Linked DNA regions of Homo sapiens: region 2 is linked to region 1. Evidence: fine-mapped expression QTL. A gene starts in region 1. The other region holds a variant in brackets. All regions are shown on one strand. Distances are between the middles of the regions.

Region 1 (2,500 bases):
CTTTCTCTCTTCCTGGGACTGCCTGAACTAGACATTCTCCTGGAACTATAAGAACCCTCCTCCTGCGCCTCCACCTCCATCCCCAACACCTATTCCCCCAAACTTAAATTCTTAAGAGAATCCTAGATCAAGCCATGGGTTTGGTGAGTTAAGCTAAGCCAGATGATACAGTAAATGTGCAGGAAACCTGCCTTATAAAGTAAATGCGTTCTCTCTCGTGCTGAGAAACTTATAAGATCCTGCTGGCGCTCTATACTTTATTGGCTAGGAGAAGTAAAGAAATGTCTGATTCGAGGTGAAGATGCTCCCCATGCCTTGCAGCAGGGAAATTTAAATTGCCTCTGCTTAGAGCGTTTCCAGACCTGAAAGACCAGTGGTTTAGGGAAGCACTCTACATGAGGGAAACCTGCATTAGAAGGAGCTTCTTAATCCCTGGGATCTTTCCAAGCTAAACTGGATGTCTACAGTGGGGAGAAAGAAAAGCAGAGAACAGGACATGAGGGGGGCTCAAGGCCCCGAAGGGTTGACATAGGTGTCCCTTAAAGCCGAATGTAGCTCCGCAGAAAGAAGACCAGGACTGAGTCAAGCTTCTGCTTTCCCTTCAAAATCGGCCAGATTTTTTAAATAACTTGACTCTGAGGAGGAGGACCTGATTTAAGTGATGGTCCCATCACTGTTGAATCCTCTGTTTTTAAAACTCCCCTTTTGATTTTTTTGGGCCAGAGCCAATTTTATTTAAAAAAAAAAATCTCTAAATGAAAGGGCATCAAAAAGACCGCATTTCAGTTATTTCCCCAAACCTCAAGTTCATTCTCCTTTTGTTCTTCCTGCAGCAAATGAAGGATCAGCTGGACAACTTGTTGTTAAAGGAGTCCTTGCTGGAGGACTTTAAGGTGAGAGCAGGGGCGGGGTGCTGGGGGAGTGTGCAGCATGATTAAGGGAAGGGAGACTCTGCTTCCTGATTGCAGGGAATTGGGTTTGTTTCCTTCGCTTTGAAAAGGAGAAGTGGGAAGATGTTAACTCAGCACATCCAGCAGCCAGAGGGTTTACAAAGGGCTCAGTCCCTTCGGGGAGGCTTCTGGTGAAGGAGGATCGCTAGAACCAAGCTGTCCTCTTAAGCTAGTTGCAGCAGCCCCTCCTCCCAGCCACCTCCGCCAATCTCTCACTCACCTTTGGCTCCTGCCCTTAGGGTTACCTGGGTTGCCAAGCCTTGTCTGAGATGATCCAGTTTTACCTGGAGGAGGTGATGCCCCAAGCTGAGAACCAAGACCCAGACATCAAGGCGCATGTGAACTCCCTGGGGGAGAACCTGAAGACCCTCAGGCTGAGGCTACGGCGCTGTGTAAGTAGCAGATCAGTTTTTTCCCTTGCAGCTGCCCCCAAAATACCATCTCCTACAGACCAGCAGGGACACTCACATCCACAGACACAGCAAAGACACAGACTGGCAGAGCTAGCTGTAAATGAGGAAAGACTCCTGGAGTCAGATCTCTTGCTCATTTCTCTTTGAGCAGGCGTTGGGGGTGGCTGCTAGGCATTTACATGTGAAATTTGCAAACAGCTTTCCTGTTATTTGTGAGTCATTTGTGGGTTATTAACTACTCCCCTCTCTCTTCATAAAAGGAGCCCAGAGCTTCAGTCAGGCCTCCACTGCCTCTTTGTAACTAGACCCTGGGCGGGGAGCTAAGGTTCCCAAGCAGAGGAAACATCATTCACCTCTTTTAATCTCAATGTTTTGAAAGCAAAGCTCTAAGAAGGGCCCAATTGACTGACAGGATTTCCCCTGGCATTTTAGAAGGGACAAGGGGGCTATTCATCCCCAGGCTAGTGTCTATGAGTAATTCCTCCAGGTAATTTATTTCTCCAACTGAAATGATGCCCTCACTACTAATGGTTTCCCCTGTTCTGTCACCAATATTGGAAAATCAGTTGGTGTCTATTTGTAGGACAAGGCTATGTGAAGGGTTTGGTCCCAGTAGCTTCCCTCCTCAGATGCTTAGAAGTGTTCCTCGGTGGCTGTGACTGACGGGGAGGAACAGGAGAGAGAGGCAGAAAAGGACAGGCTGAAGAATGCCTCGCTCAGCACTGCAGGAGATACTGTAGAGTTCTGGGGGAGGAAGGAATCCCAAGACCTGGGTTGTCATCCAAGCCTTGCAAACATCTTGGAGTGAGTCCTGGAGAAATACATTTAACTCCCAGGGCCATGGAAGCAGGGCTCAGTTCTCTCTGGGAGCTGTGAGGCAAGGCATTTGGATAAATCTGGCCTCCTCATGATGCCACCAGCTTGTCCCCTAAGTGTGATGGACATGGAGCTGGAAGCCAGGATCACCAACACTTTCTCTTTTCTTCCACAGCATCGATTTCTTCCCTGTGAAAACAAGAGCAAGGCCGTGGAGCAGGTGAAGAATGCCTTTAATAAGGTGAGCTTGGATGGTGGCAGAGAGGGTCTGCAGAGCACAACCCATGCCCACTCCCCAACCCCAAAGCATGGAAGGTGGTG
Region 2 (3,022 bases), 72 kb before region 1:
AGGGTAAGTTACTTAAGCTCTCTGTGCCTAGTTTCCTTCTTAGGGTTTAATTATCCATACTGCTAACAATCAATGAGGTGGCCTTTTTCATTTTATTTCATTCTAAAAACCTACAATAGGATTGTTGTGAGAATTAAATGAAATATATATATATGTATTTATATTATATTATATTACAAGAAGTGTATTTCTTAGACTATCGGCTGGCATATAGGAAGCACTATATACATGTTTGTGGTTATTCACATTTCTTGAATAAATAATCTAGGTGAATTGTGAATTTAACACCTACTAAGTGCCAGGCAGTGAACAAACTAAACCATCCCTACACTCATGAAGCTTACATTCATGTGGAGGAGCAGCTAATAAACAAAATAGGATGCTAGATAAACAGGAAAGGGGTACAAAGTGTGCTGAAGGTGGAAATGGGGGGTTATCCTCCAATACGAGACCTTTGGAGTGAAGGTCTGAAAGACGTGGAGGTGCAAGCCATGCAGGTGTCCAGGGGAAGCACATCCCAGGGCAGTGATAAAAGATCAGAAATGCTATAACTGCCATCACCCAGCCTGCTCAGGGTGGGTGCCCATCCAAGGTCACTTTGGAAAAGTTAGGTCCTCAGCAAACAACCCTGCTCCCTAATAGCGTATGAATCCCATTAACGCATAATGTGTGGAGGGTTTGTTTTATTTTTTAACCCTACCTCAGTTTATGAGTGTGCATGTACACAAAGTGCATACACTGTATGGTGAGAACATGCCTGGTGTGTTTGCGAAACACAGAGCAAACAACTATGGCTGGGTCACAGTGAGCCTGGGGAAGGAGCAGGGACACAGTTAGGGAAAACAGCCAGGAGGGGTGTGTGTGCAGATATCAGGGTTGTCAAAGCCCTCATAATGACTCCAGCTTTTAAATGATTATAGAGGCAGGTGTGGTGGCTTAAGTCTGTAATGCCAGAACTTTGGGAGGCCGAGGAGGGAGGATTGATTGAGCTAGGAGTTTGAGACTACAGTGAGCTATGACCATGCCACTGTGCTCCAGCCTGGGTGACAAAGTGAGACCCTGTCTCCATAAATAAATAAATAATTATATGGAGCAGGTAGTACAGAAGGGTCAGTATCCACAATACTAACAACTAAGGACCAAAGAAATGTACTGACCTGCCCTGGGAAATTCATGGCAGGAGATGCCTTAGAACCAGAAGGTGGCCCCTGAGTCGGCAGTCTTTATATTGCACCGTGCTGTCTCCCACCCTGCTGAGGTCATGAGAGACCTTTTCCTTACTCGATGCTCACAGCAACACTACAGGACTGGTGTTAATATCTCCACTTTACAACAGAGGACACTGAGTCTTAGAAACGTTAAGTGCTTTGTTCAAAGTCACATAGGATTGGAACCAGATCAATTGGACTTCAGAGGTCTTGTTCTTTCCATTAAAGCATGTGATATGAAATCTGAAAGATACACATTTGTGCTCTGAATCATCTATGCAGTGTCCATCTAGATGTTGGTACCCTTTTCAGCCTCTCTACCCAGTGGCCTCTCTACTTACTTGTGTCTGTGCTTGTTCAGCTTTGTCACCATGACAACCATCCCTCTGTCAGAAACACCCTGTCCTCAGTCTTGACTGACTCTCCCTGAATGAAAAGATCCTTCCATTCATAGGTAAAATATGGAATTTATTCAGAAAAACCACTCAGTACAATGTGTACTACAGGATATCACTTGGCTCACATCACAGACATGGACTATATGACTT[T/C]ACAATAAATTAGATGGGAAGGCAGCCCTTTACTCCCAGGATGGCCTGCAGGCCCTTTCAGCAGATAGAGTTTATTACAAATACCACAGTAGACTTTTTGGCTATTTTCAAGCGGAATAAGACAGCCTGAGGCCAGCCAGTGGGACTTTCAGCTGCAAGGGGCCTTCCCCATCTCCTTCCCCTTCAAGGTGGGCTGTCTCCCACAGTAAACCGCACAGGGGGTGTTCATCCCTGGATCACTATACAGGTTCCTTGTCATCAAGCTGAGAACATTACTTCATGATTCTTATTAATCCAGGCTAGAAAGACGTCGAGCTCTCCCAGGGATTTAATGGCAGCAGCGTGGACCTCCAGCTGAAATCAGAGATCAATGTAAGAACCCACCTTTCTAGACTGTGTAATGGTTTTCAAGTCACTTTCTTCATATGCTGGTTCCCACAAGGTTTTGTTTCTGTTTTTGTTTTTTTGTCACGAAATATATTTGCATAACATACAGACTCAATATTATTTTCCTCGCAGGCAACCAATTTTTTTCCCCACAAACAAGTAGTTAAATTATGTCAGCTCCTTATAAACAGAACTTTAAAATTCTTCATTCTTTTCCCTCAGGTTTTTTTTTCCTCTGTTTTTCACAGGAAAAAAAAATCTGCCTTACTGGCCAGTTCCGCTGATTTTCTTCTCCACACCAGCTTGCTTTAGTGCTTCTGTTATCCCAGAACATCTTTGTCCCTGAGGTGCTGGACAGTGGGTAGGGAGAGCATGTTGTCCTCATTTGACATATTAGAGCACTAAAGCCCCTAGAGCAAGTGTCCTACCCAATGTCACACAGCCAGTTAGTAACAGAGCTGGAAATGAAACCCAAGTCTCCTGCCTTATTCCACCTCCTTCCTCAGCAGACTGAGTTCATGCTTTTAGCGCGTCCTGTAGAGCCAGCCAGCGTGGAATTGAATCCTACCTCTGCCGTGCAGTTGCAGTGTGAACTTAGTTTAGTTACTTTACCTGCTCGAGCCTCAGTTTCTTAATGTATCCAATGCAGATAATGACTCATAGCATTGTTGGGAAGGACGAATGTGTGTTAATACTTGTTGTGTGCCTAGAGCAATACCTGGCTTATAGTAAGAACCATGTAACTCTTAGCTATTTCTATAACATTATCTTACAGAGTCTCTCCACAAAGAAGCAGAGCCCATAACAGACTCCCTAACTCTTGCTCTTCAAAGCATTGGTATCATTTGACAGTGTGATCTAAATGCAGAAACTCAGGCT

Direction of the effects. Positions count from the first base shown, and alleles are read on the strand shown. Sizes are in standard deviations (SD) of each study's normalised expression.
As copies of C replace T in region 2, the expression in testis of the gene that starts at base 1,476 in region 1 goes up (large effect, 0.82 SD a copy in GTEx).

What was found. PIP is the estimated chance that this variant, and not a neighbour inherited with it, causes the effect.
Region 2: its variant is the best candidate, but not a certain one, in a credible set for the expression of IL19 in testis (GTEx, PIP 0.87).

What each region holds. Positions count from the first base shown.
Region 1 is chr1:206,769,749-206,772,248 of GRCh38, reverse strand. It overlaps IL19 (interleukin 19), which reads right to left and starts at 1,476. Exons shown (of 7, transcript NM_153758.5): 1 at 1,171-1,476. It overlaps IL10 (interleukin 10), which reads left to right. Exons shown (of 5, transcript NM_000572.3): 2 at 834-893; 3 at 1,190-1,342; 4 at 2,355-2,420. RefSeq lists cis regulatory regions at 1-44, 1-126 and an enhancer at 1,126-1,315.
Region 2 is chr1:206,841,615-206,844,636 of GRCh38, reverse strand. It overlaps IL19 (interleukin 19), which reads right to left. Exons shown (of 7, transcript NM_153758.5): 7 at 1,656-2,110. The coding sequence ends at 2,015. It overlaps LOC105372878 (a long non-coding RNA gene), which reads left to right and starts at 1,816. Exons shown (of 3, transcript XR_922482.3): 1 at 1,816-2,128; 2 at 2,919-3,022. The variant T/C (reference allele first, on the strand shown) is at 1,757.